Linked DNA regions of Homo sapiens. The protein of the gene in region 1 interacts with the protein of each later gene in a pairwise test. Each region holds a gene or a part of one and is shown on either strand. Other genes may lie near its edges. The genes, in order: EHHADH, TRIM5, C1orf50 and FUNDC1.

Region 1 (7,711 bases):
CACACGATTGCTTTACTGTAATCCACAGAGTAAGAAAGCTCACGTTTTTACGTAGCAATTCAAGACACACTTACATACAAACACGTAACCGAAAGCAGTTTCCTAAAACAAAACCTATCCTTACTTGGTATATTGTTTGATATAGTCTATTTTCTCATCTCTTCTTTTTCTTTGAAAAAATCCTGGTCACAAGCCACAAACTTGATTTGATGACTTTTGGTTTAAAAAAAAAAACTGTCTAAAAAAAAAAGGAAAGACCTTCTATAGTCAAAGAAGCTGAAGAGTTTTGGTCAGTAGTCATGAAATGCTGTCTCTACTCCAGACTCTATTTCTTCATGCCTGACAGTATTAACAGGAGAAAATAATTTCATAACTTCTGCGGCCTTTACATTGCTATGACTCTCTCTGTCAGCTTGAATCTAGTAAAGTGCGTATCTGTTATAGCTATTTTCATTTTTTTCCTGTTTTTGATATTTGCAAAATTATGAACATAAAAAAGGAAGATAGGTTGAAATGGGAAAAGCTGGTTTCTTCTCCTCAGTGGCACTGATTGAGCTAATTTTGGCTAGTTTTGTAAGCATTGTTTATTCAGAAGGAAATGTGTGCCTTTTGGACTTTTTGATGTTATATAATGGTTCTGAATTTGCTTTTCATGGTCAGATTTGGCTTCTAATTAACCAGCTGAAGCCAAGAGGTTTTGTCTGATTTCATCTAGGTTAAGAGGTGAAAAGTAATTAGGTGTAAGGGAATCATTATAAATAAGGGCAAGTATCCTTTTTATTTCTTGGGGTTTTAACTAATAGTTGTTGGTCTTAACAATATGGCCTTTACAGAAGTTTGTTGTTGTTTGTTTTGTTTTAAAATTTATTTTTAACCCTGTGTACTAAAGAACAGAGATTTTACTCAGAATACTTGGAATTCCAAGGCAAAACTGATTGGAATCTGGTTCTGTGGTTTTTCCTTTTAAGCAGTTCCTCACCACTTGCCCTAGATTCTCTTATTGCTTGGTACTTATTAATCCCCTCCTTCTTCACAAATTTTCTCTCTTGGTCTTTGTGACTTTGAGCTCACTTGCTGAATCACTCTGCTGAGCTTGTCCCACTTCTTAAATGAAGATATATCCAGAGGATCTGCCCTCAGCTCTCTTTTCCTTTGGTAGACTCATTCAGTCTTGGTTTTAGCTATCTCTTCTGCAGATGACTTCCTCATATATTAAAACTTGGCAAAATCTGCTACATGCCCTATCTTTCCACTATCTTGCCTTTATATCTTATCTTAGTTAAGATTACGCTTGGCTGTCACTGACAGAATAGTGAAGATAATAGTGAATTAGACAATAAAAAGCTAATTTCTCTCACAGCAGTGCCCTGGAATGATACAGCTGCTCCACAATCAACAGGGGCCTCAATTATTTTCTCTGTCTATCTCTTGCTCTACCATCCTCAATACATAGCTTCTACCTCCTGATCCAAGGTGGCTGCTCCTGATCTAACCATCACTGGTGCCAGGAATAGGGAGGAAAGAAAAAGGGAAAAGCATACCCAAATCTTTAAGAACTCTTCCCCAAAGTTGCATATACCAAATATGCTTCCATCCCATTGGCTAGAACTTAGTTCCTTGTGCAGACCTTACTGTAAAGCAGGCTGGAAAATATAGTCTTTATTTTGGGCAACCATATTTTTGTGTTAGTCCATTTTCACACTGCTATAAAGACATATCCGAGACTGGGTAATTTATAAAGGAAGGAGGCTTAATTGATCACAGTTCCACATGGCTGGGGAAGCCTGGGGAAACTTACAATCATGGTGGAAGGCAAAGGAGAAGCAAGTACCTTCTTCACAAGGTGGCAGGAGAGAGGCATGAGTGCAGGGGAAACTGCAACTTATAAACCACTAGATCTCCTGAGAATTCCCTCACAGAACAGCAGCAGGGGGAAACCACTGGCATGATCCAATCAACTCCCGCTAGGTCCCTCCCTGACGTGGGGATCACAGTTTGAAATGAAGTTTTGGTGGGGATAAAGAGCCAAACCAGGCTGGGCGCGGTGGCTCACACCTGTAATCCCAGCACTTTGGGAGGCCGAGGTGGGTGGATCACGAGCTCAAGAGATCGAGAACATCCTGGTTAACACGGTGAAACCCCGTCTCTACTAAAAATACAAAAAATTAGCCGGACGTGGTGGCGGGCGCCTGTAGTCCCAGCTACTCAGGAGGCTGAGTCAGGAGAATGGCGTGAACCCGGGAGGCAGAGCTTGCAGTGAGCCCAGATCGCGCCACTGCACTCCAGCCTGGGTGACAGAGCAAGACTCCATTTCAAAAAAAAAAGAGCCAAACCATATCACATATATTCAAGTAAAAACCAAGTGTTTTAATACTATGAAGACGATGGAGAGGAATGGATATTTGAGGTAACTCACAGCCCCCGCCACAGCTCCTAGACTGTTTCTCATTTAATTTTCTTATATTTTAACAATATGAAAAACTGAAAGTAATTTCACCCTTCTCTGAACTTCAACATCACTTTTTCTTTGTACCTTTATTACAGCACTCAGATATCTTAGTGTGCCTTACATGATAAATTATGTACAAGTATTGGATAACTCCTTGTACAATATATAGAAGACATGTAATAATATTTTTAAATTGGTTGGTGTCAATTTTAAGCGGTCAAAGTGAAAGCACAGTGCAGGAAAATTACATTTTTAAAAAGTGGATTAATTTAATCTGGTCAGTGCTTAATTAATCATAGGCATATATATTATTTGTAGAAGAAATTTAATAGTCATAGTAGACATATTATTTGTTGGAAGCTTTATTGAGAAGTATCTACAGTTTTTATCCATTATGTGTGTGTTTAATTTTTCATTTTTAGGAAAGGAAAACACTCTGAATGGTAGGAATTTAATTCTGACTGATTTACTTCATGTATTTTGTTTTCTTTTAGTACGACTTTACTCCGTGACATAAAAGAAGGACTACAGAAAGCTGTAATAGACCATACAATAAAAGCCATTGTGATTTGTGGAGCAGAGGGCAAATTTTCTGCAGGTAACTCAAGTCTAACCCTCTCCCACCATCTCTGGAATCCAGCCACAGACTGAGACCAATACTGCATTAGCTGTGCTTGTTGGTAATAACTTAGTGTAGGTAATGGATATGGCAGACTTGAGTGAGAATGAGTAACACTGTGGAGAAAGGGACAGGAATTACAAGAGAGACCCAGAGAAGGGCTTAGTCTCTTTTATTGTGGATTGGGCTTTTAGAGTATATTTAGTTCCAGACTTGATGGCTGTTATACACCTGCTGATATATACCTGCATTGCATGTATCTCCACCATATGTGGGCTTGGGCAAATCTCTTTAACTTCCTGAACCTCAATTTCTCTATCTATAAAGTGGGAACAATAATATCTATTTTAAGGGGTTTTTGTGACATTAAGCGAGATAACATATCTGAAAGCCTCTACTACAGTACCTACACAAAGAAGATGGTCAATAAATGTTATTGTTTAATTCACACAGAGTCTTATAATAGAATTCATTTTTCTTCCGATAGTCACCCATCTCAGTGACCATGGCACTGCTTTATTGGGTTATTGTGTGAAGATGCAAAATTATTGACAAAATATGGCAAAAGTATGCTGAAATGGTGATTTATTCAATGGCATATATGGCGTCTTTTCCTTAATATTCATACATTATACCCTTTGACAAAAGTCACATGGATATGGGGGCCTATTCAACCTTACTGTAGCCAGAGAAATTTAATATGTGTTAATGGTAGTCTGAAAAGACACAGATGTTAGAATCATGGCAATAAATAAATATAAAAATGTGAATCATTATAATATTACCATTTATCTTGCCTGTTATATGCCAGTACCATGTAGGTTATTTATTAAATAATAATAATAAAAATAATAGTATTTTTAAACATGTTATATGTTAATTCTCAGTTAGTCCTACAATCCTCATTTACAGGTAAGAAGAGATTTTGAGCCTGGGAGAGATTAATATAATGTCCCAAACCTTAACCAGTTATTAAATGGCTTACTCACTGTTTGGAAATTTAAGGTTTGTCACCCAAGATGATGACGATGATGCATGGGAAGAGTGCTCAGAATGATAAAGAACTTGATATTTCTTTGTAAGAAAGAAGGTAGATGAGAGAATGTAATTAGAGTTTGGAGGCAGAAAAAATTATTCTTCTAAAAAAGTATTAGGGATTATGAAACTTGACTTAATACATTTACATAGAACAATGCACCCCAAAATGGGAGAATATACATTCTTCTGAAATACATCTGGAACATTTACAAAAATTGACCAGATACTGAATTATAAAATCTTATCTAAATAAATTTCATTAAGAATACATTATCTGACAACAATGCAATTAAGCTAGAAATCAATAACAAAAATATAACTAGTAATTCTCATATGTTTGGAAGTTAATTTCCAATATCCTCTGAGTAAAAACAGAAATAATGGAATTTAGAAAAAATTTGGAACTGAATGGCAATGAAAACATAATATAAAACTTGAGGGATGCAGCTAAAGTAAAACTTATCAGAAAATTTATAGCTTTAAAAATATATATTAGAAAAGAAAAATGGCTGAAATATAATGAGTTAAGTATTTATGTAAAGGAACTGACAAACTAACCGTAAAATACACCCTAATCAAGTAGAAGAAAGGAAATAATAAAGAGGAGAAATTAATGAAATAGAAAACATTTGAATCAAGAGGAACAACAATGTTAGTTTTTTGAGACTAATACAATTGACAAACTCTGGAGAGATTGAAGGAGAAGAGAAGGCACCAAGCAATGCATATAAAGAATGATGAAAGGGATATCATTGCAGATACTGTAGCCTTTAAGAAAGATAATGGCCCTTTGGCTGATGCAAGAGCCTAGTGCGGTGGTGGGAGAGGTATCAGCAGGAGCAGCGCTGCCACGGGGCCTGGGGGCTGACCTGTCTGACTTCCCATCCATGCGGAGCCCACTGGAATCGCATCCATATCTGGAGATGAGATGATTTTTGATCCTACTGTGAGCAAGAAGAAAAGAAGAAGAAGAAGCCTTTTATGTTAGATGAGGAAGGGGATACTCAAACAGGAAACGCAGCCCTCAGAAACAAAAGTCTGGAGCCAGAGCCAACTGAGGACAAAGATTTGGAAGCTGACAATGAGGACAGTAGGAAAAACGATGCTTCTGATGATCTAGATGACTTGAACTTCTTTAATCAAAAGAAAAAGAAAAAAAAACAAAAAAGATATTTGATATTGATGAAGCTGAAGAAGTTGTAAAGGATCTTAAGATTGAAAGTGATGTTCAAGAACCAGCTGAACCAGAGGATGACCTTGACATTATGCTTGGAATAAAAAGAAGAAAAAGAAGAATGTCAAGTTCCCAGATGAGGATGAACTACTAGAGAAAGATGAAGCTCTAGAAGATGAAGATAGCAAAAAAGATGATGGTATCTCATTCAGTAATCAGACAGGCCCTGCTTGGGCAGGCTCAGAAGGAGACTACACATAAGAGGAGCTGCTGAATTGTGTGTTCAACATCATGAGGGAAAAGAATCCAGATATGGTTGCTGGGGAGAAAAAGAAATTCGTTATGCAACCTCCACAGGTCGTCTGAGTAGGAACCAAGAAAACTTCTTCTGTCAACTTTACAGATATCTGTAAACTATTATATTGTCAGCACACTTGCATTTTTGTTGGTTGAATTGGGTACAAGTGGTTCTATAGATGGTAATAACCAACTTGTAAAGGAAGATTCCAACAAAAACAGATAGAAAATGTCTTAAGATTTATCAAGGAGTATGTCACTTGTCACACATGCTGATCACTGGACACAATCCTGCAGAAGGACATGCAACTCTTATTTCCTACAGTGTGAAACTTGTCATTCTAGATGTTCTGTTGCCAGTATCAAAACTGGCTTCCAGACTGTCATGGGCAAGCGAGCACAGCCCTGTGCCAAAGCTAACTAATTTGCTAATCACTGATTTTTCAAAGCGTGTTGTGGATATGTGGCTAAACCAGTTTGCCATCAGAGTGGATATACCATTGTATTAAAAGCAAGATAAAAAAGCTGCCAAGTTCTTTGGCTAGTGGCTGGTTGGTGTGAAATCCTTGCAAGATGCTGATGCTCAAGCTGTTGACATATGTATAGACTACTTTAACAACTGTCAGAGAAACATGATATGGGGTAAAGAGGTGCTTTTTTAAAATCGTTCATAGACTTCTGTAAAATACAAGATAAATTAAAGTTATTGTAACAGTGAAAAAAGAAAGATAATGAAAATATTATGAACATGTAAAAAAAATAGCTTCTCAAAATTAACTCAAGAAGAAATAGAAAACCCAAATAGTTCTGTAATCATTAAAGAAATTCAATCAGTAATCAGAAATCTCACCAAGTAAATACTTGACCCTGAAGACTCCACTGGCAAGGTCTACTGTAAAGTCAAGGAAAATATTCCAATTTTACATAAACATTTCAGAGAATCAAAAAAGTGGGGCCACTTTCTCTATTAGTTTCTTAGAGCACCATAACAAATTGCCACAAACCAAGTGGCTTAAAACAACAGAAATCTATTCTCTCATTGCTCTGGAGGATAGAAGTTTGTAATCAAGATATCAGCAGGGTCATTCTTCTTCTGTTTTCTTTAGGGAAGAATCCTTCCTTGCCTCTTCTAGCTTCTTATGGTTTCTAGCAATCCTTGGCCTATGGATGCATCACTCCAGTCTCACTTTAATCACATGGCTTTCTTTCCTCCATGTCTAAATTTTCCTGATCTTCTATAGGCCCACCCTAACTCAGCATGACCTCATCTTAATTTGATAACATCTGCGAAGACCTTCTTTCCAAATGTCACACTCACAGCTTCTGGGTAAACACTATTCAACTCAGTACACTTCCCAACTCATTTTTTGAGGCAGCATACCCTTGATACTAACACCTGACAAGGACAGTATGGAAAAGAAAAATTACAGGCTAATTTCATTTATAAATGTAGATATAAAAATCGTAGTGTAAATTGAGACAACAAAGCAACTAGGTAACAATATTATGACGGAAACAAACCCTCATATATCAATATTAACCCTGAACATAAATGGCCTAAATCCTCCACTTAAACATATAGACAGGCAAATTGGATTAAAAAACAAAACCTGATCGTTTTCTGCCCACAAGTGACACCCTTTGGTAAAAACACCCACAAACTCAATGGAGTGGAAAAAGATACACTGTGCAAACACAAAACAAAAATGAGCAGTAGTAGCTATATTTACATCAGATAAAGCAGATTTTAAATCAACAACAGTAAAAAGACAAAGAATGTATTATATAATAATAAAGGGTTCAATACAAGGAGAAGATATAGCTGTCTTAAATATATATGCATCCCAAAATGGACAACTCAGATTTATAAAACAAATACTACTCAACCTAATAAAAGAGATAGACAGCTATACAATAATAAGGGAGGACTTCAAAACCCCGCTGACAGCACTAGACAGATGATTAAGGCAGAAAATCAACAAAGAAACTATGGACTTAAACTAGACTTTAGACCAAATGGACCTAATAGACACACTTATAGAACATTCTATGCAATAACCGCAAAATACACATTTTTCTATTTGTGCATGGGACATTCTGTGCATGGAACGTTCTCCAAAATAAATCATATGCT
Region 2 (7,711 bases), on another chromosome or scaffold:
AAGGACACCAACTTCAGAATGAAAAGATGACTATCTTCAAGAGATCTATTGCAGAATGTGGCAATTATAGTTAACAATGTATTGTATTCTTGAAAATTGGGATAAGAGCAGTTTTCTTTTTTTTTTGAGATGGAGTCTCGCACTGTTGCCCAGGCTGGAGTGCAGTGGTGCAGTCTTGGCTCACTGCAAGCTCCGCCTCCCGGGTTCACACTATTCTCCTGCCTCAGCCTCCCAAGTAGCTGGGATTACAGGTGCCCGCCACCACGCCTGGCTAATTTTTTGTATTATTTTTTTTCATTTGTGGGGTACAATGCAAAATGAAAATATGCGGCCCCTTGTTCAAAATTTATTAAACATTTCAAGATGATGACAACAGAGCATTAAATCAAATGCAGGTGAGAGAGGGGTAGACACATCCTAAGGTGCCCTGGGGTTCCGAGGAATACAGCATGAGAAACACTGAACGTAGAGCCTGAGACAAGGACCTGGGTCCAGGTGATTTACCTGACCCCAGGAAGCAGGAATGAGGGAGCAGGGAGGTAAGACAGGGAGGAGGAGAAGCCAATGTATGAGTAAGCTGTTGGGGTTGTTTCTGGGCATTATGGGATCATGATCCCACCAAACCTCCTGGGAATGCCCCAGAATCTCTGCCCGAAACACTGAGAGCTGAGGCATTTCTCCATCAACTCCCAACCCCATTGGTTGAAGGATGCCCCTGGGGGTGCTAGCTTTCTTGCATTTCTTTTTTTTTTTTTTTCTTCTGTTGTGTTTTTTTTGTTTTTGTTTTTGTTTTATTATACTTTAAGTTTTAGAGTACATGTGCACATTGTGCAGGTTAGTTACATATGTATACATGTGCCATGCTGGTGCGCTGCACCCACTAACTCGTCATCTAGCATTAGGTATATCTCCCAGTGCTATCCCTCCCCCCTCCCCCCACCCCACCATAGTCCCCAGAGTGTGATATTCCCCTTCCTGTGTCCATGTGATCTCATTGTTCAATTCCCACCTATGAGTGAGAATATGCGGTGTTTGATTTTTTGTTCTTGCGATAGTTTACTGAGAATGATGATTTCCAATTTCATCCATGTCCCTACAAAGGACATGAACTCATCATTTTTTATGGCTGCATAGTATTCCATGGTGTATACGTGCCACATTTTCTTAATCCAGTCTATCATTGTTGGACATTTGGGTTGGTTCCAAGTCTTTGCTATTGTGAATAATGCCACAATAAACATACGTGTGCATGTGTCTTTATAGCAGCATGATTTATAGTCCTTTGGGTATATACCCAGTAATGGGATGGCTGGGTCAAATGGTATACTTCAGCAAAGTCTCAGGATACAAAATCAATGTACAAAAATCACAAGCATTCTTATACACCAACAACAGACAAACAGAGAGCCAAATCATGAGTGAACTCCCATTCACAATTGCTTCAAAGAGAATAAAATACCTAGGAATCCAACTTACAAGGGACGTGAAGGACTTCTTCAAGGAGAACTACAAACCACTACTCAAGGAAATAAAAGAGGATACAAACAAATGGAAGAACATTCCATGCTCATGGGTAGGAAGAATCAATATCGTGAAAATGGCCATACTGCCCAAGGTAATTTACAGATTCAATGCCATCCCCATCAAGCTAACAATGACTTCACAGAATTGGAAAAAACTACTTTAAAGTTCATATGGAACCAAAAAAGAGCCCGCATCACCAAGGCAATCCTAAGCCAAAAGAACAAAGCTGGAGGCATCACACTACCTGACTTCAAACTATACTACAAGGCTACAGTAACCAAAACAGCATGGTACTGGTACCAAAACAGAGATATAGATCAATGGAACAGAACAGAGCCCTCAGAAATAACGACGCATATCTACAACTATCTGATCTTTGACAAACCTGAGAAAAACAAGCAATGGGGAAAGGATTCCCTATTTAATAAATGGTGCTGGGAAAACTGGCTAGCCATATGTAGAAAGCTGAAACTGGATCCCTTCCTTACACCTTATACAAAAATCAATTCAAGATGGATTAAAGACTTAAACGTTAGACCTAAAACCACAAAAACCCTAGAAGAAAACCTAGGCAGTACCATTCAGGACATAGGCATGGACAAGGACTTCATGTCTAAAACACCAAAAGCAATGGCAACAAAAGACAAAATTGACAAATGGGATCTAATTAAACTAAAGAGCTTCTGCACAGCAAAAGAAACTACCATCAAAGTGAACAGGCAACCTACAAAATGGGAGAAAATTTTCACAACCCACTCATCTGACAAAGGGCTAATATCCGGAATCTACAATGAACTCAAACAAATTTACAAGAAAAAAACAAACAACCCCATCAAAAAGTGGGCGAAGGACATGAACAGACACTTCTCAAAAGAAGACATTTATGCAGCCAAAAAGCACATGAAAAAATGCTCATCATCACTGGCCATCAGAGAAATGCAAATCAAAACCACAATGAGATACCATCTCACACCAGTTAGAATGGCAATCATTAAAAAGTCTGGAAACAACAGGTGCTGGAGAGGATGTGGAGAAATAGGAACACTTTTACACTGTTGGTGGGACTGTAAACTAGTTCAACCATTGTGGAAGTCAGTGTGGCGATTCCTCAGGGATCTAGAATTTTTTGTATTTTTAGTAGAGACGGGGTTTCACCGTGTTAGCCAGGATGGTCTCAATCGCCTGACCTCATGACTGGCCCGCCTGGGCCTCCTGACCTCATGACTGGCCCTCCTGGGCCTCCCAAAGTGCTGGGATTACAGGCGTGAGCCACCGCGCCCAGCCTTTACTAGTGAATTCTATTGAGCATATAAAGAAGAAATGATAGCAGTTATTTAATTCTTTTCAGAAAATTAAAAAAAAAGGAAAAAGTCTCAATTAATTCCATGAAGGAAAAAAATAAAAAGCATCTTGTATTTTGACGTGTATTTGTTTGCCAGTGGCTAAGCTGAGCAATGAAAAGCTGCACTGGTAAGTCTCAACACTAGAATACAGAGAATAGGAACCTATCAAACATGACTAGAGCTAATTGATCATCTCCACTACGTCAAATTTTTCTACTGCTCTGGATAAATTAATAAAAATGGGATTATCTCTTGCTACTTCTACATTCAATTATTCTTATAACTTCAGCAATTGATTCAGAAAAGCGGTCCTGCAGAGAACATTGTTAATATTAGAAAAAGCACAGCAACGCAGAGAAGGAAATAGCCTTCACTTTTCTTTAATCTCAGTGCTCAGGCTTCTTTCCACTTTTTACCTGAAGCAGCTCCATCACTGACCCCTGCAGCCGATGCTCCAGATCTGAGATGAGCTCTCTCAGGGACTGGGTCTGCTGCACCATCTCAGTTTCAGAGTTCGTAAGGCTTTTCAGAATGTCTTCCTCCTCCTTCTCCAGGTTTTGCAGCTCATTGCTCTCCTCCCAGTCCAGGATGTCTCTCAGTTGCTCAAAATCTGCCAAGACGTTGGTTTTGTCATACTGTATTTGAGTCTTCAGAGATAAGAGAAGAGAAAGGGGCACTCAGTCTACCAGGCAGAGGCTGTTAGCCAGAAAAGGAGCTGTTTCTTTTGGGGAGTTCTCACAAGGAGGGGACATAGTAGCAGGAGAGTAGGTCTTAGGAAAGCTGCCTTTTCCTATTTCTTTTCCTTCATGACATTTTAAAACAATGACCTTGAATGGGTATATTGAGGTTCATCCTGCATCAAAATGGGTTACCTGGATGTAGCTTACCTTTCACACAGCTATGCAGGACACTCATGCCTGCCTGTATTACTTCTCAGCCCAAGCTCAAACTCCCTGCCAAAAGTTGAACACTGAGGACAGAATCATGAGCCATTGCCAAATGTCTTCCCCAAGTAGAGTCACGGACTCAAAAAGTAGCACAAAAATAGAATGCAGGATTCACTAGCCATCCTCACCAGAGAGATCCTTCATGTAAAGAGCTCCCTACTGTGTTCACTGTGACATATTCACTCCTCAGCCACCACACCCCATCAGGGAAAGGATGAAGAGGACTAATCAAATGACTTCTGGACTTATCAAATGTCAGGGAATAAAGAGGAAGAAAGCTCCTTCCCCTGGTCCTGCCCAGATTTCTAGCTAACTCCTTCGGGAACCACATCCTCTTGCCTTCCAGGAAGCTTTCTCTTCTCTGATGTCAGCTTCTAACTCTTCAGCTTCCTGCTGCTTCTGCCTCAGCATCTCCAGAGCTGCCTGGAGCTTCACCTGTGAGAAAGGAATCACACCATAGTCAAGCTATGAGGTTTTCCAGCACCTAGATAGAGTATAAACATGAAATAAATCAGGTTGATCTCAGAAGAAACAAATTTGCAGAAACTGTGAGAATGGCAATGAGAATCCATGACTTGGAAGAAAACTTACATTGGTGAATGTGCTCCCTACATCTCAGGTAATAGACCTCCCCATCTCCTCACCATGAGTAGACTGATTCTTTTTGTCCTAGAAGAAAAAACTAATCCTGCAGCAAGGAAAAAACTTACATCTCAACCCACTCCTGTTACTCTCCTGCTGAAAGGGGTAATCAGAGCTTTTCTTGGACACCAAATCTCTACCCATCTAACCCAAGGTACAAAATATTTACTCCCGGCCAGGAATATATACTCTAGGATTATTCTCCTGTAATTGGGTGAAATGCAAAAAACCATCCTTAAAGCCTCAGAAGTTAAGCATAGCATGAAAAAAATAATCCCGGGTCTCAGGTCTATCATGACAAGGCAGTTAATGTCAAAGGCAAAGTGAAAATTTTCCATCTGGTCCCATTTTCTGCCCTCTCTTCCTTCCATCCCAGTCTCTTACTTGGTACTCCCGGGCAACCTCCTCTGTGAGGAACGTGTGGTGACCACGGTGCTCCTGAGACCGCTCACAAAGCCAGCAAATGACCTTCCCGTCCTCCTGACAGAAGAGTAGAAGTTTCTCTCCATGGCGTGCACAATGATCAACTTTCTGCCCCTCTGGGCTCAACTTGACCTCCCTGAGCTTCTCCACTATGTTGGCTACATGCCGATTAGGCCGTATGTTCTCAGGCTGGTAACTGATCCGGCACACAGGGCAGCTACTCTCTCCTTTGTCTAGCATGGACTTCTTGTGGTTTGCAGTGAGGCATGCTTGGCAGAAGCTGTGGCCGCAGTCCAGGCTCAGGGGTTGTGTCAGGAGTTCCAGGCAGATGGGGCAGGTCACCTCCTCCTTTACATTAACCAGGATTCCAGAAGCCATAGTAGCTATTCCACTGCTCCTGCCTGTCCTGGCTGCTGAGGTTCCTCTTGTTCACAGATCCCTGCATGATTGGGAAGGTTAAAATGGGACCAAGTAAGAAAGGTAGAAATAGAAAGGATATTGATTGTGCACAATTAGAAAATGGGCAAGATGAAAATAATTAAGGACAAAAAAAGGGGAGAAATAAGAAAAGGTGTTTGGTTACCTGGTAATAAGGGCTTTTCATAATCACCTTAAATACTTTACTGCCAGTTCATGTCATATGACAAATTCTGTTCTTATCTGTGCATTGGTTATCATTTTTCTTTACTTTCAATGAATAGAAAACAGACTGAGGTCTTTTCTACCAAGATCTTTGTGTGACCCATCATCTCTCCTGGCTTTTCTTTCCCACGCCAAAACACATCCTCAGTATTAAAATCACCAAACAGCTTATGCCTCAGGGCTTTCACATTTGCTCTTCTCTCAGCATGAAATGTTTCTCTGATGTTAGTACGATTTTATTAAATTCTCTCCTTACATGTTATATTATCAAAAATACCTGCTCTGACTACCTTATGTGCAGTGTAACAAATCTCACCATGCACTGTACGTTTGCAATGATTGCTCTTATTATCAGCAGAGTGAATGACTGTTTCATCAAATGTATAAATAGACATAATAAGTGATTTACAAAAATTATTTATCTTCAGTATGGTGACCTGAGATGACCTCGTATTCAGGGTCCTCTTTCACTGGCCTCTTTGCTACTCTTTTGGTTAATCAATGACAAATGGAGATAACAGCATATATCCAATTAATACCCAGAGCAATTGGGGTGTGGAAGTAGAGGAATCCACAACAGCTGGGAGGTTCTGAGGAGTCTCATCCTGAAAGTTTGCCAAGGACATTTATTGGAGCCTAAAGGTGTAGACATGGTGTAGAGGGTGATGATAGAGAAATACTCAGTGGACCACACATGTTGGATACTTGAAAACTAGAAGCACAGAGGCAGTGGATATCAGTCTTGAGAGAGAAGTCTCAAAATATTAGATGAGATGATTCTGTTCCCGGAACAAACGGAGGGTCGGCTGCTGCTTCTTGCGGCCCAATAACGAGATGCAGATTTACTGGGAAAGAAGCGAATTTTTATTTCTGCGTACAGGGAGAAGGCCTAGAAAATATCTCCAGACCAACTCAAAATTACAAAGTTTTCCAGAGCTTATATACCTTCTAAGCTATACGTCTACGTATAGGTGTGCATTATTCATCTAAAAACATAAGTGATTAACTTCTTCAAATCTATAACTAAGGTCTGAGTTTTAAGACCTTCCTCTGGTGCCTCAGTAAATTTACCTAATCTAGATGGGTCCGGGTGCTGGGGTGATTACCCTTATCTTGTCTCTCCTGCTAAATCATTAAGGTTTGCGGAGTTCCTTCAGACCCTCAATAAACTTGTTTGTGGAGGCCTGGGAGTTCCTTCAGACCCCCATAAAACTTGTTTAATCCTAAACAGGTCCTAATCGATTCCTTCGTTATCTTGTCATGCTTCAAGGCCCAGGAAAGGCCTGGGCAAAACTCTCAGTGGGCTTCTGTTACATTCCAGCCTTTGTATAAGGGCACTGGCTCTATCAGCTTTTAATATTTTTTTTTCTTTTTTGAGACGGAGTCTTGCTCTGTCGCCCAGGCTGGAGTGCAATGGCACAATCTCGGCTCACCACAACCTCTGCCTCCCAGGTTCCAGTGACTCCTCTGCCCCAGCCTCCCGAGCAGCTGGGACCACAGGCACGCACCACCACACCCGGCTAATTTTTGTATTTTTGGTACAGATGGGGTTTCACCATATTGGCCAGTCTGGTCTCCAACTCCTGACCTTGTGATCCACCTGCCTCGGCCTCCTAAAGTGCTGGGATTACAGGCGTGAGCCACCGTGCCCGGCTTCAGCTTTTAATATTTAACTTAACCAGACGGGTGTGGTGGCTCACGCTTGTAATCCTAGTACTTTGGGAGGCCAAGGCAGGCGGATCACCTGAGGCTGGGAGTTCAAGACCAGCCTGGCCAACATGGTGAAATTCTGTCTCTACTAAAAATACAAAATGAGCTGAGCTTGGTGACAGGTGCCTGTAATCCCAGCTACTTGGGTATTCTTTCCACATGCTTCTCCTGCTCTTCGTATCTCACCTAAGCTCTGCTTTTGGGGGGCAGATACGGCCCACGGAGAGGGAGGAGCAAGGTTAATGATTTTTAAGAAAATCCAGTAGTTCCCTGAGTCTGGACTTGGTGCCCTAGTAGAGGCAAACAGATGCTGTCACCAGGGAAGCCCTGATGAAATGACTGGGAAAGTTATTTTTCTTAACGTTTTTCTTTATTCCCTTTATGTATAGACAAAGTTGCTTAAGAAGAAGCCAGACTGCCCAGCATGGTCCAGATCTTGACCCCTGACCAGATCCAAGGGGGAAATTAGACCCCCGAACC
Region 3 (7,711 bases), on another chromosome or scaffold:
TGGCGTGCGCCTGTAATCTCAGCTACTGAGGAGGCTGAGGCAGGAGAATCACTTGAACCAGGAGGCGGAGGTTGCGGTAAGCTGAGATTGAGCCACTGTACTCAGGCCTGGCAATACAGCGAGACTCTGTCTCAAAAAAAAAGAAAGGAAAGAAAAGAAATTCTGCTAACAATTTAAGTGAGCTTGGAAGCAGATCCTTCCCCACTCAGGCCTTCAGATAAGAACAGCCCTGACCAATAACTTGATTTCAGCCTTCCAGGGTTTCAGAGAAACTGTGAAGCAGAGGACTCAATGAAATGGTGCCTGAACTCCTAACCTGTAAGCTCTGAAATAAATAGGTGTTGCTTTAAACCATTAAGTTTGCAGTAATTTGTTTATCTGTAACTAATAAAGCACCTATTCAAAATGTGTCATCATCATGCAGGTCAGAACCTTCTGAAAACCTGGGAAACTTTCTGTAGTCAGAATCCACTACTCTACCACTAATGTCTCTTCCATCCGGCTCTGCAGCACCTGAGCAAAAGACCTCTGCAGCTGAGTCCAAAGAGCATTCCCATGTGAACCGAGCAACCAAGTATCATCGGAGTGAGTTTGTTAGATTCTAGCCCCATCCTGTGCTAGGCCTTAGGTAGACCTCTTACAGCTCACAAGAAATGCAGTTTATGAGGAAAGACCATGAATCGGGGGGCGGCCCGGGGAGGGTATTACCAAACAGATCAGCATCAGGAACATCATTCCCAGAGAGAAATTTGGCCAATTGTCAGTTCAAGTACACATCTCTCCCTCCTTTTACAGCATATTGCAATAGATTATAGCCATGCGAAATAATCCATAAACTTAGCTAATTCCACCAAACAGATAGGAAAGAAGGTAGAGTCCTACAAGAGCCTAGTCAGAATAAGAACTACAGTAATTTTGCCAAAACCCTGTTAAGTTCTTGAATAATTCTGGTCAAAATGGATTTCAATCTGAGTTAACTCACAGTCAACAATTTGGCTGTTTTTCTTGCTTCTCACTCTACTGCCTTACTCTCTTCCACAGTGTTAAGTAGCCATTTAAATGGGTTTGTTCTGCTGCAGGTGGCTGAGCCTGGGATTTCCAACTTGGGAGACTACACAGTGGACTCTATAATGATTAGTGGCAGCATCCAATGTCTCTTCCAAGTCTAAAATTTGTGAGTTTCAAAGTTGACTCTCCCCAAACCTGGCCTTTGCTGCCTCAGATTCTGTCACTCTAGCAAGGCAGAGAGAGCAAAAGGGGCAAGACAAACCTCATCAACAGCACAGAAATCCCAGAATCACACACTCTCTGGTCCAGCCAAGCCAAGTGTTTTTTTTTTTGTTGTTGTTGTTGTTTTTTAAATCACCCTCCATTACTCAACATTCTCGTTCCCAGATGAATTTTAAACTGGAGTTGCACCAACTGTGAGACAGCCTCAACCCCAATGTTAAATACTACCAGTTATATATATATATATATATATATAAAAGACTGAAAACAGTTCTCTCTGGAAAACGATCCACCAACCTTTTTATGGGAAGAAGGTCTTCTCTAACACTTTAACTTAAGGGAAGAAGTGATGGAGAGGAAGAAGGAAAGTACACTGGCCAATACTCTGAAACTGACTGACTTGGGTATCTGTGGTCCAAAGAGGATCCCGAAAGACAGTGACTCTGTCTCAATGATTATTCCCATCCCAATTAAAAGTCATAATGACAGCATTTACATTCACACAGGGTCTCTTTCCAAGAAGTTTGTGAGTCACCTACATGTCTTCAATTCTCAAGGCAACAGTGGGGGCAACAAGGAGGTTGACAGCCAGGTCCTGTGAGAGCTGTTTGTCAAAGCCCACTCTCAGTGAGTCAGTCCCTGGAAGTTGGGTTCAGTGCACGGAGGCAGGGCCACTGACTGGCTTAGCAACGTGTCCATCATGCTGATTTTAGCATCTTGCTTCTCAATGTCCTCATACGGAGTCCAGGACAAGTCATGCTGTAGTTTGTAGGCACCAAGGAAGTCATGTGGACAACTTGTCCCCCATTCCTAGAGAAGGCAAAGGAGGCAGTTCCCATCAGCGTGGGTTGTAAACAAACTGAGCTCATTTCCTAATCATGCCACAATCTCTTTTTTGGCTTTTCACTTCATACTAGTCAGAACAACCTTTGGAACGCAGTTACCTTACACATCAGATCCCTCCCTTAATGAAGAAAATGAGTGAAATAATTTAAGCACAGGTATATTTTTTAGAGTCATGTCTGGGCTCACATCACCCCCAATTTTCTAAGAAACCATATACCAATCCACATGTCTACATTTTCACACATATACCAAGAATTTCTCAGAGGCTGGAGTAGATTTTTGGGCAAACAATGTATGTTCTTACCTTTGGAGAAATGATGGAAAAATACTGCTGACCACTCTCCCGTTTATAGAGATAGTAAATGTTGCCAGGTTTTTTCACTATATTACAAGCTACATGGTGCAGGTTGGCATCTCTGTGAGCATCTTCCAGTACCTATGAATCACAGATATGTAACAAATTAGGTATTGGAGATAACAGGCACCCACATTTGGTGATCATCCCAATTAAAATTTGGAAACCATTCAGTGCTTAGGATCTTGCTCCCCCATAGCAATGAATCACTTCTGAGATCCAGATTATTCTGAAGAAACAAAAATTAGACTATGCTGCTATGCTGTAAAAATGCCTTTAGAAAAATTATATTTCAAGCCAGGCACAGTGATTCATGCCTGTAATCCTAGCACTTTGGAAGGCCATGGCAGGTGGATCACTTGAGTTCAGGAGACCAGCTTGGGCAACATGGCAAAACCCTGTCTCTACTAAAAATACAAAAAATTAGCCAGGTGTGGTGGCATATGCCTGTACTCCCAACTACTTGGGAGGCTGAGGCTAGAGGATCACTTGAGCCCAGGGGGCAGAGGTTGCAGTGAGCTGAGACTACACCACTGCAGTCCAGCCTGTGTGATACAGTGATACCCTATCTCAAAAAAAAAGATATTTCAAAATGTTGAGCATTAATGACCCTGGGTAATTTTTAAGCTTCTTTCCTATTTTTCTGTGCTAAGTACATTTCTTTTATAAATGAAAACATAATCCCCTGTTAAATGCTTTACCTCATGAAACCTTCTCCTGGAAAAAACAAAACAAGGGAGGCTGAGGCAGGCAGATCACCTGAGGTCAGGAGTTCAAGACAGGCCTGGCCAACATGGCAAAACCCCATCTCTACTAAAAATACAAAAGTTAGCAGGGTGTGGTGGCGGGCACCTGTAATCCCAGCTACTTGGGAGGCTGAGACAGGAGAATCGCTTGAACCCGGGAGGCAGAGGCTGCAGTGAGCTGAGACCATGCCACTGCACTCCAGCCTGGGCAACAAGAGCAAACCTCTGTCTCAAAAACAAACAAACAGACAAACAAAAACTTATACTTAACCTCTTAAGCTTATTCCTTCTATTTTACTCAACACCTCTACATTTCTAGGAGGTATTAAAGACATAAAAAGTCACAACGATTATAAACAAGTTCAGCCAATCCTGAGAACTAAATAAAGAAAATGAAAGCCTGTCTAACAGTCATTCCTTACCTTCCTGGCTTGTTCTTGCAAATGTTGGATTTGCTCAGCTATGACTGTCAGCTTGTTGGTGGCATTTGCTCGGATGAATTCATCAGCCTACAGGTGAGAAAAAACTAAACTGTGGGTTGAAAGAGGAAAAGACTTCTATGATGTTCTTATCTTGATCCCAGGGTTATGTTAATATTTTGCTTCTGCCTAAAATATTTTTCCCATTCTTGCCACTGCCCCATAGCCTCCCACTCATCCGAGGCCCCACTCAGATAGCACTGTCATGAGAAGGCCACCCTGACATGACTCCACGCCACAGAGTTAAGTGCTCTCTTCTATTTCCCATAGCTTTCCACCCCTTCGCTATGAACTGCAGTTACACTGAACTTCTTTGGTTCTCCAGCATGCCTTCTCTCTTTCTCTCTCCTGCTACCAAATATACTGAATATATCCTCTCCTCCAACCAATCCATTTTTCCTCCTGCTCTTTACCTAACAAACACCACACATTTCTCAGGTCTCCATTTTCTCATGTTTAAACACTTGTGAAATCAGGGATGGATTTTAAATAATTAAAAGACACTTGTGATCTGGCCCTTATCATCTGCTAAGGTAGAAATCTAGATACACATAGAAAGTATTCGGGTTTTTCTGTGTGACCCCCACACCCCCTGAACTGAGAAAGTATGCGTTAATCTGACCATTTCCTCAGTTATTTACATCACAACTACTTAAATGTTAACTTATATGTGCATTTCTAATTATTACTTAAAATGTATTTTAAAAGACTGCATTATGATGTGGACCTGAAACAGAGTTATAATGTACACACAAGACTACCTGTCACGTGCCACAAAGTGCAACTGAAGGCAATGGACATTTTTTTTTTTTCAGACAGTTTTCGTTCTTATTGTCCAGGCTGCAGTGCAATGGCGCAATCTTGGCTCACTGCAACTTCTGCCTCCTGGAGTCAAGTAATTCTCTAATGTCAGCCTCCTGAGTAGCTGGGATTACAGGTGCCCGCCACCATGCCCAGCTAATTTTTGTATTTTTAGTAGAGGCAGGGTTTCACCATGTTGTCCAGGCTGGTCTCGAACTTCTGACCTCAGGTGATCCGCCCACCTCGGCCTCCCAAAGGTCTAAGATGACAGGTGTGAGCCACTGAGCCCAGCCAGGACATTTCTTAAAATAGATCAAATTCTCAAAGCTAGGAGAGACTAATGTGACAAATTCATGTGCTGGGAAGGATTACCACTCAGGCAATAGAATTCTGTCAAAAACTTCCACCTTACTTTTAAGAAAAGCTGATTATACACAATTAAGGTAAAGAAATGAGGAGATTAAACTAGAACCTGAACTAAGAAATATTAAAGAGAATTTGCTGGTTAGTTGAGGAGTCTTAAGGCAAAGTTCAGGTATAAACCAGTGTTATGAGTGAACAGAAACCACACAAGTAAACTGAGTCATTTATCTGTCCCACAGATGTATATTAGGCAGCTACTATGTGTCAGACACCACACTAGGCACTGGGTGTACTGGCAAACAGGAAAGAGAAGTCCCTGCCTTTGTCAAGATCGCAAGTCAAGTCTAATACCGTTCAACAGAAATATGAGGCAAGTTGCATATAAAATTTTAAATTTTCTGGTAGCCACGTTAATAGTAAATTAATTCTAACAATACTTTTTTTTTTTTTTTTTGAGGCAGAGTCTCGCTCTGTCACGGAGGCTGGAATGCAGTGGTGCAGAGGCTCACTGCAACCTCCGCCTCCCGGGTTCAAGCAAATCTCGCACCTCAGCCTCCTGAGTAGCTAGGACCACAGGCATGCGTCACCATGCCCCGCTAATTTTTGTATTTTTAGTAGAGATGGGGTTTTGCCATGTTTGCCAGGCTGGCCTCGAACTCCTGGCCTCAAGTGATACGCCTGCCTCAGCCTCCCAAAGTACTGGGATTACAGGCATGAGCCACCGTGCTCAGCTAATACATTTTACTTAACCTAATATATCAAAAACATTTTCATTTTAACATGTAATCACTATTTGTAAGTTGTTAATGAAATATTTTGCATTTTTTGTTTGTTTTTGTTTCTTTTTTTGGTCCTTCTCAGTCTAATCCATATTTTGCATTTGATATTAAGCCTTCAAAATATAGTGTTTATTTTGTACTCACAGCACATCTCAATTTGGATGCTAAATTTTCATCAGAAATACTTCATCTGTATTTAAACTTAATAAAATTTATATGTGAAAAAGTTGATTCACATACTCAAATTGTTCCAATATACTTGAGTTCCAATAATTGAAGTAATTATCAGGTTTTTTAAATTCAAATTAATTAAAATCAAATAAAATACAAAATTCGGTTCCTCAGCCACACTAACAACGTAACACAAGTGCTTAACAGACATAATGTTGCTAGTGGCTACCTAAAGCACAGCTCCAGTGAGTAATAGATACCAAAAAGTAAAGATGATTAAAGCTAATATTATATGTACTCATAACAATGCACTGTTATGAAGGAAATAACCACAATTATGTCGTAGAAGCAGGTTAAAGATAACAAATGAGTTAAGTAAAAAAGCTACTTCATTTTTATGAAGTTTAATAATAGGGAGTGGTGGGGAATTGGAAAGTATATGTAGCCTAGAGGTATTTGAATTCAATTTAATAATACTGTCATTTGGATGGGGTAGGGTACGGTCTTCTTCAGACAAGAAGGCCTCACCAAGGATATAACATTTGACTTGGGTCTAAATGAAAGGAGAGGACCGACCATGAAAAAAGCTGGAAAAAAAAAAGTTTGCAGGCATTTGAGGCCAGTGCAGCTGAAGAGTAGTTAGTGATGGGCAATGTGTAGAACAGGGTTTAAAAAGAGAGCAGAGACCAGATTGTGCAGTCTTGTAGCCCATGGTAAAAGAATTTGCATTTTGTTCCAAGAATGAAAGCCCAGGTGTGGTGGCTCACACCTGTAATCCCAGCACTTTGGGAGGCCGTAGCGGATGGATCACCTGAGGTCGGGCGTTTGAGACCAGCCTGACCAACATGGAGAAACCCTGTCTCTACTAAAAATACAAAATTAGCCAGGCATGGCGGCACATGTCTATAATCCCAGCTACTTGGGAGGCTGAGGCAGGAGAATTGCTTGAACTCGGTAGGCAGAGGTTGCTGTGAGCCAAGATGGCGCCATTGCACTCCAGCCTGGGCAACAAGAGCGAAACTCCATCTCAAAAAAAAAAAAAAGAAAGAAAGAAAGGAGGAGCCATATATGGCCAAGGAGAGAGTAGGTATTTCTAGAGCTAAGGTAGTTCCAGATTAGGGGTGGCCTTATAATAACCCTCCCTTTTCTTAAGGTGTTAGCAATAAATCTCATAAACAAAATTTGAATTTATATTTTGAAGAGTTAATATAAAATGCAAAATATGGATTAGTCTGAGGTCCAAAAAAAGGAAAAAAGAAACAAACAAAAAAAATGCAAAATATTTCACGAACAACTTAAAAACAAAAGAGCCTCATAAAAAAGAAAGGAAGGGAAGAGTACCTACAACTACTAAGCACTAACCCTGGCCTCAACTACTCTGAGGCCCTTTACATTCATCTCATTTACTTCTCACAACACCTTTATGACGCTGGAGATGATAACCTCACTTTCTCATTTTAGCAATTAAGACTCACAGACATGAGGCAACCTGTCCAAGGTTTCACAGATAATAAACAGCAAAGGATCTGAACACAGGTCAGATTCCAAAATTCATGCCTTAATACCAGGCCTCCTGAGCTTTCTGAACACACACCAATACCTGGGTCAGTCTTGCTAAAAAAGTACTTTTTTTTTTGAGACGGAGTCTTACTTTGTCACCCAGGCTGGAGTGAAGTGGCACAATCTCCACTCACTGCAACATCTGCCTCCCAGGTTCAAGTGATTCTCCGGCCTCAGCCTCATGAGTAGCTGGAATTACGGGCGTCTGCCACCATGCCCGGCTAATTTTTTGTATTTTTAGTAGAGACAGGGTTTCACTATGTTGGCCAGGCTGGTCTTGAATTCCTGATCTCGTGATCCACCCGCCTTGGCCTCCCAAAGTGCTCGGATTACAAGCGTGAGCCACTGCACCCAGCCCACCACCATTTTTTTTTCTTTTTA
Region 4 (7,711 bases), on another chromosome or scaffold:
TTTAGTAGAGATGGGGTTTCACCTTGTTGGCCAGGCTTGTCTCGAACTTCTGACCTCAGGCGATCCGCCCGCCTCGGCCTCCCAAAGTGCTGGGATTACAGGCGTGAGCCACCATGCCTGGCCTAAATATGTATATTTTTGCTTTGTCTTAGACAAGTGTGCAAAGCTGTATATAAATGGCTAGTCACTGCAGAGTTGTTTGTAAAGCTGAAAAAATAAACTGCTAGATGAACATTCTGTGTAGATGCTAAGAATTGCTTGTAGGACAGACTATTTGGATCAACACTCTGAACCTGCAGTCTATTAAGGCAGTCACTTCCAACTAGCATCTGGTGATCTAAGGAAAACTTTCAGTCTCTGCCACTTTCTAAGAAGCTTCTATCTTCGAATTAGAGAAGACATTCAACTATACCATCTCTCACAAGCCTTCTTGGTCTATAGACATGCAATTAAAATGGTTTCCAAGAATGTTAGTGCTCCAGTAATATGATGTGTTTCTAAAAGTCTTATTGAAGGGACGGTCTTCTAACCATTGCATTGGTTGAAACAATGGGTTGGAGGAGGACAAGTCACACATAATAAATACATCCCACCAATCTCTTAAAAAAACAGTATCCAAGGCCAGGCGCAGTGGCTCACGCCTGCAATCCCAGCACTTTGGGAGGCCGAGGCAGGCAGATCATGAGGTCAGGAGATCGAGACCATCCTGGCTAACACAATGAAACCCTGTCTCTACTAAAAATACAAAAATTAGCTGGGTGTGGTGGCAGGCGCCTGTAGTCCCAGCTACTCGGGAGGCTGAGGCAGGAGAATGGTGCAAACCCGGGAGGCAGAGCTTGCAGTGAGCCGAGATCGTGCCACTGCACTCCAGCCTGGGTGACAGAGCAAGACTCCGTCTCAAAAAAAAAAAAAAAAAAAAAACAACAAAACAACAACAACAAAAAAATAGTATCCAAGTATTAGCCATTAAAAATTTTTAAAAAAGATACTGCTCACTGCATCCATGAAGGAAAAGCAAGAAACAGAATGCTAAAGTCACATTAAAAGAACAACAGCCGGGCATGGTGGCTCACATTTGTAATCCCAGCACTTTGGGAGACCGAGGTGGGTGGATCGCTTGAGCTCAGGAGTTCAAGACCAGCCTGGGCAACATAGCAAAACTCCATCTCTACTAAAAATACAAAAAATTAGCCAGGCATGGTGGTGCATGCCTGTAGTCCCAGCTACTTGGGAGGCTGGCGTGAAGAAATCACCTGAGCCCGGGAGGTCAAGGCTGCAGTGAGCCAAGATCGCACCACTGCACTCCAGCCCAGGTGAACAGAGTGAGACTCTGTCTCAAAAAAAAAACAAAAAACAAAAACAACAAAAAAAACTTGTTGAAGTTGAAGAAATCTCCCAGAAAATAGACCAAAAAGATAGAAGTGGAAAATTGAAAAGATTATTAGTGTTCTACCAAATCTAAGAAAGAAAAAAAAAAAATTATTAGGCCAAGCAGTCAGTGGCTCACACCTGTAATCCCAACATTTTGGGAGGCCAAGGCAGGAGGATTGCTTGAGACCAGCCTGGGCAACATAGCAAGACCTCATCTCTATTTAAAAAAAATTAAAAATAAGTCTAAAACTGTAAAATAAATAAAGAAAGAAAAATTAGACAACTGGTCCAGGAGATCCATATAACTGGAACTACAGAAAAAAAGATGGGAAAATTAAAGAGCAGGATATCATTAACTAAATAAATATAAAGAAAATTTCCCCAAACTGAAAGGGCCCCTTGAGTTTCCAGCACAGTGGATGAAAATAGGCCCACAGTAAGGCACATCACTGGGAAAAATCAGAATACTGAGGACAAAAGAAAATCCTATAAGCATTAACTGAAAGGAAAAAAAAAAACCCACACATGTAAAGGTTCAGAAATTAGAATTACTTTAAACTTTTAACAGCAACACTGGAAGTCAGAAGACAATGGAGCAATACCTAAACACAGCTATTAATAAATTATCAAACAAATGTGAGGATAAAATGAAGAAATTTTCAGACATGCAAAGTCTCAAAAACTATAGTTCCCATTCTCATTTTCTACGAAAGCTATTGGAGGATGTGTCCACCAAAACAAGAGAATACATCAAGACATAGGATAGGCCAGGTGCAGTGGCTTACACCTGTAATCCCAACACTTTGGGAGGCCAAGGCGGGTGGAATGCTTGAGCCCAGGAGTTCGAGACCAGCCTGGGCAACATAGCAAGACCTCCCTATTATACAAAAATACAAAAATTAGCGGGCATGTGGCACACGCCTGTAATCCCAGCTACTTGGGAGGCTGAGGCAGGAGGATCCCTTGAGCCCAGGAGGCAGAGTTTGTAGTGAGTGAGATTGTACCACTGCACTCTAGCCTGGGCAACAGAGCAAGACTGTCTCAAAAAACAAACAAACAAACAAAAGACATAACATACAAGAAACAACCCAAAACAAAAAGGGAATATCCAGAAGGTATTGAAGAGAGATCCCAGGGTGAGAGCCGTATACCAGGCCTAGAAAGCAAACAGGACAGATGACTCTGGGACCAAGTTTGCCCAGACGGTTAAACTGATGAACTATTTGATACATACGACAATGAAAGGTGATTTACACAACTAGTAGTTGTCTAAAGAAATAATACTGGGCCAGGTGCGGTGGCTCACACCTGTAATCCCAGAACTTTGGGAGGCCGAGGCGGGCAGATCATGAGGTCAGGAGATCGAGATCATCCTGGCTAACAGAGCAAAACCCTGTCTCTACCAAAAAAATACAAAAAAGTTAGCCGGGCTTGGTGGCGGGCGCCTGTTGTCCCAGCTACTTGAGAGGCCGAGGCAGGAGAGTGGCGTGACCCTGGGAGGCGGAGCTTGCAGTGAGCTGAGATCGCACCACTGCACTCCAGCCTGGGTGACAGAGCAAGACTCTGTCTCAAAAAAAAAAAAAAAAAAAAAAAGAAAGAATCCTGGCTGGGCGCGGTGGCTCACGCCTGTAATCCCAGCACTTTGGGAGGCCAAGGCGGGTGGATCGCCTGAGGTCAGGAGTTCGAGACCAGCCTGGCCAACATGGTGAAACCCCATCTCTACTAAAAATACAAAAATTAGCCAGGCATGGTGGCAGGTGCCTGTAATCCCAGCTACTTCGGAGGCTGAGGAAAGAGAATCGCTTGAACCCAGGAGGCGGAGGTTGCAGTGAGCCGAGATTGTGCCATTGCACTCCAACCTAGGCAACATGAGCAAAACTCTTGTCTAAAAAAAAAAAAAAAGAAGAAGAAAAGAAATAATCCCGGCCGCCCGTGGTGGCTCACGCCTGTAATCCTGTAATCCCAGCACTTTGGGAGGCCGAGGCGGGTGGATCAATAGGTCAAGAGTTCTAGACCAGCCTGGCCAAGATGGTGAAACCCCATCTCTACTAAAAATACAAAAATTAGCGGGGTGCTGTGGCAGGCAGCTGTAGTCTATAATCCCAGCTACTTGGGAGGCTGAGGCAGGAAAATCACTTGAATCCGGGAGGTGGAAGTTGCAGTGAGCCAAGATTGCGCCACTGCACTCTAGCCTGGGCGACAGAGCGAGACTCTGTCTCGAAAAAAAAAAAAAAAAAATCCCAAACTTCCTAGTAGAAATAATGGCCAAAACCTTCCCAAACATGATTAAAGACATAAATTCACAGGCTCAAGAAGTTCAGTGAACTCCAAGTAATCAATCTCAGTGAACTCCATATAATGAATGATCTAACACAATTATGAAAAAAGGGAAGTAACTACACTCAGACGATTGAGGGAGAGGGAAGAAAGCATTCAGGTATGTGAGATTTGGGGAAGTATAGGGAAAACAAAACAGGTCAATAAATGACAGCTAAATTTTCCCATTCCATAATGGGAAGCCAATAGTTCACACCTAAAACTGAAAGATCAAGAAATGTCCAATTAACTTGTTTAGGGAAAAAGAGATTACTACCTTAAGAATCAGTTAAGAGTGCAAACTGGATGTCTCAAGGGATGGAAAAATGGGGGTAGTGAGAGAGGTGGAGGATTACTCTAATCTGTAACAAGCCTTGCACAAGTACTTGGCCCTTTGAATTATAAGGATGTATAACTCCAAAAAATTAAAACGAAGAGACTGTGTACTTTAAGATGGCAGTGTAATAAATATCTATTGGAAAACACTTGATATTGTTACTAGAAAAGCTTTAAGTTCTAAATAAACTAATATTTACCTTTAAATATAAGAAAGGTCATAAAAATATGAAAGTGGGCCTAAAGAATATTAGGCAATTAGCCTAAAAGCCATTTGTTACTTTATTTCCCCTTTCACTTTCCTTCTACTGAGTTTTCAAGGTTAGTCGTATTTGTGGGAAAAACTGGTTTGATGCAGATAGGTCCTATGTTGCTCTGCCTTAAAAACTTCAAAGACTACGTGTACTAAATGCGGAAAAGTGGGAGGTGGCAATGACAAAATGTGGATTTGAATGGTGCATATTGAGTGAACTGAAATGGACTTCTGAAAAACTGACATGCAGAGTGGATTAAAATATACACTTCTCTCCATTCTGTGAACATTTTAGGAAACTCTGCTTCAGTCCAGTACCCTTTTACACTAACAGAAATGACAACTGAGTCTTCAAAATAGCTATGGAATAAAATATGCTCTTGATTCCATATAAAACCAAGTCAAAATCAGCTTAAGTAAAATTATCATCTGTACTAATGCTGGCATATTCATCCAAAGAACTAAATTTAGGTATTAATCATTTTTTTTACCTCTTACCACAAGTAATAAGCAATTATTCGTAATAATGTCACCAAAAGAAAGAAAACATATATATTTTTAAAAGGCTGTTTAGTGAACAACTCAAAATCTGTGCTTCATACATACAAATCTAGTCCCCTTGTACTACAACTACACTAGTTATTACATGATCGATGGCTTAGGTGCTGAATTCAGATTCTGGTGGCTATGAACATCAATCATTTTTAAAATCTAGTACAAGTGACAGTTCTCTGTATCTTTAAAAGTGCTGCTCACATTCATTCGTAGAGATTTTCAATTTTTGGATTTACTATATTTGATCTTCAAGGAATGATATTTTTGAAAAAATACATGCCAAACAGACATGAATGCCAGATGATGCCCTGATAAACATCCTCTAATGGCAAAGCATTTTTAGATCTTATACTTACAAGAATATGAACAAAACTAAAACTTCAAATCTATCTGCCTCAGATATAAGATTATGGATTTTTGTTTTGTTTTGTTTTGTTTGGAGACAGAGTTTTGCTCTTGTTGCCCAGGCGGGAGTGCAATGGCACGATCTCGGCTCACTGCAACCTCCGCTTCCTGGGTTCAAGCAATTCTCCTGTCTCAGCCTCCCAAGTAGCTGGGACTACTACAGGCGTGCACCACCATGGCAGCTAATTTTTGTATTTTCAGTAGAGACGGGATTTCACCATGTTGGCCAGGCTGGTCTTGAACATCTGACCTCAAGGGATCTGCCTGCCTCTGCCTCCCAAAGTGCTGGGATTACAGGCGTGAGCCAATGCGCTCGGTAATGGCTGTCTTTTTAATAGCTGGGATCAAACTATGCTTAATAACTCAGAAGTATTTAAATTGTTATCTTTCAAGACAAAAGTCAGCTTCCAAAACTCATTGTAGCTCTTCCATAAACTGATGCCTAAAAGAAAAATTCCACCTTCTATGAAAGCAAAGGCAAGTGCTTAAAGCTCTGACATACCTGAAGAAGAAGAAAGCCACCACCTACTGCAGTTGCTGCAAGTTTTCCAACTTTCTGGAACAGAAATCCTGCACACCTTTAATCAAATAACAAAAGATGAAAACAATCAATTATGTACTAAACCCTCTCCCTCTTCTACTTTTCATTGCTTTCCTAATAAAATCTTATGTCTTTGCATTTCTTTTGATCACATCCCTTACCTGCTCAGAAACCTTCTCAGAAACCCCTCAGTTATACAGGCTAGTCAAAAATGCACAATCTAAAATGTCTGAAATTTGCTTCAAAATAAGGGACGGAGAGAAGAGGAGGAGAATTTATAGAAAAAAAAGAGCAGCTACTAAAATAACGACAAGTACTCAGGGGTTCATTATATTCCTCCTACATTTGTATAAGCTGAAACCTCCCGTAATAAAAGTGATGTTTTGCTTAATACAGTCAAGATGGTCCATACACCTGGTTGACCCCCACCTTCGGCTCCAACCCCATTAACCTCCAAATAGGTCATCACCTTTGCTCAAGCTATTAATCTCCCTGCTTCTAGGGGTTTCTTCCTAGCTCTACCTATCTAAAGCTTTCCTACCATTCCTACCCTTTCAGGTCCAGCTGTTGTTCCACTCAATAACTATACTTCAGCCCACATTTCTAAAGGCCTCCTTATCTATATCTACCTATTTTTATATTAAATGTTTTTTGTGTCTCATCTACCCTGTGTCAGCTCATACTTCTTTTGTCATTAATTCGCTCCTTCAGTGAGCTCACATTCCCTTCAGCATTCCAGATCCACACTGTGCAAATGAATCCTATATTTCTAACTCTAGCCTTCTGCACTGGGTTGAATGGTGTCCCCCTCAAAATTCATATCCTTCCCAAAACCTCTAAATGTGACCTTATTTGAAAACAGAGTCACTGCAGATGTAATAAGTTCAGATGAGATCATACTGGACAGGGTGGGCCTTTAATCCGATAAGGACGCACACAGAGGGAAGACGACATGTGAGGACAACAGAGGCAGAGACTGGAGTAATACGTCTACAAGCCAAGGAATGACAAGGATTGCTGGCAACCACCAGAAGCTAGCAGAGAAACATAAAACAGATTTCTCCCTCTGAGCCTCCAAGAAGGAACAAACCCTGTTGACATCCTGATTTCAGACTTCTAGCCTCCAGAACTGTGAGAGAATAAATTTCTGTTATTTAATTTAATTAATTAATTTATTTTTTAGATGGAGCTCGCTCTGTCACCCAGGTTGGAATGCACTGGTGCCATCTCAGCCCACTGCAACCTCCGCCTCCCGGGTTCAAGCAATTCTCCTGCCTCAGCCTCCTGAATAGCTGGGATTACAGATGCCCGCCACCACACCCAGCTAATTGTTGTATTTTTAGTAGAGACGGGGTTTCACAATGTTGGCCAGGCTAGTCTTGAACTCCTGACCTCTGGTGATCCACCCGCCTCGGCCTCCCAAAGTGCTGGGATTACCAGTGTAAGCCACCGCACCTGGCCTCCACAGTTCTATATATTTTATCTCCAAAACATTATTTGACTGTCTTCTCCTTTCCACTCTCAAGGTCATCATTACCTTGCTTCCAGAACACTTTAAGGGCCCTCTAACTGGTCTCAACACCTCCCATCTCTCCTAGCAAGGACCCATCCTAATAGTTTTAATTTTTTGTCATGATCAAAAGCCTACAGCTACCTACAGCAAAATAAAATCTCCTCAGCCTCCTATACATGTCTTGAATTGGTCTAAATTGCTAACTTGTTAGGTTAGTGCCTATTAACTGTTCCTCCTTAATATACACCATAATATCACATCAGTTTTACATCCTAAGAAAATTGCAAAAATTTACTACACTGAATATAGTCATTGCAACAAATCGCCTGTATAATTATTAGAGTTGTATTATACAGCTCCTGGACCAACACCTGGCTGTAATCCAAATGTGTGTGTTGTGTGTGTGTGTGTGTGTGTGTGT

What was found.
Region 2: the proteins of EHHADH (region 1) and TRIM5 interact in binary tests that used the Homo sapiens proteins (3 or more experiments, as listed by UniProt).
Region 3: the proteins of EHHADH (region 1) and C1orf50 interact in binary tests that used the Homo sapiens proteins (3 or more experiments, as listed by UniProt).
Region 4: the proteins of EHHADH (region 1) and FUNDC1 interact in binary tests that used the Homo sapiens proteins (3 or more experiments, as listed by UniProt).

Annotation. Positions count from the first base shown.
Region 1 is NC_000003.12:185,243,750-185,251,460, reverse strand, and holds part of EHHADH (peroxisomal bifunctional enzyme), read left to right. Parts: intron 1-2,943; coding exon 2,944-3,047; intron 3,048-7,711. UniProt on the Homo sapiens protein: Peroxisomal trifunctional enzyme possessing 2-enoyl-CoA hydratase, 3-hydroxyacyl-CoA dehydrogenase, and delta 3, delta 2-enoyl-CoA isomerase activities. Catalyzes two of the four reactions of the long chain fatty acids peroxisomal beta-oxidation pathway.
Region 2 is NC_000011.10:5,674,921-5,682,631, forward strand, and holds part of TRIM5 (tripartite motif-containing protein 5), read right to left. Parts: intron 5,319-7,711; 5' UTR 5,258-5,318; coding exon 4,841-5,257; intron 4,250-4,840; coding exon 4,154-4,249; intron 3,515-4,153; coding exon 3,284-3,514; intron 1-3,283.
Region 3 is NC_000001.11:42,769,538-42,777,248, reverse strand, and holds part of C1orf50 (uncharacterized protein C1orf50), read right to left. Parts: intron 3,687-7,711; coding exon 3,600-3,686; intron 2,513-3,599; coding exon 2,381-2,512; intron 2,041-2,380; coding exon 1,855-2,040; 3' UTR 1-1,854.
Region 4 is NC_000023.11:44,532,729-44,540,439, forward strand, and holds part of FUNDC1 (FUN14 domain-containing protein 1), read right to left. Parts: intron 5,815-7,711; coding exon 5,739-5,814; intron 1-5,738. UniProt on the Homo sapiens protein: Integral mitochondrial outer-membrane protein that mediates the formation of mitochondria-associated endoplasmic reticulum membranes (MAMs).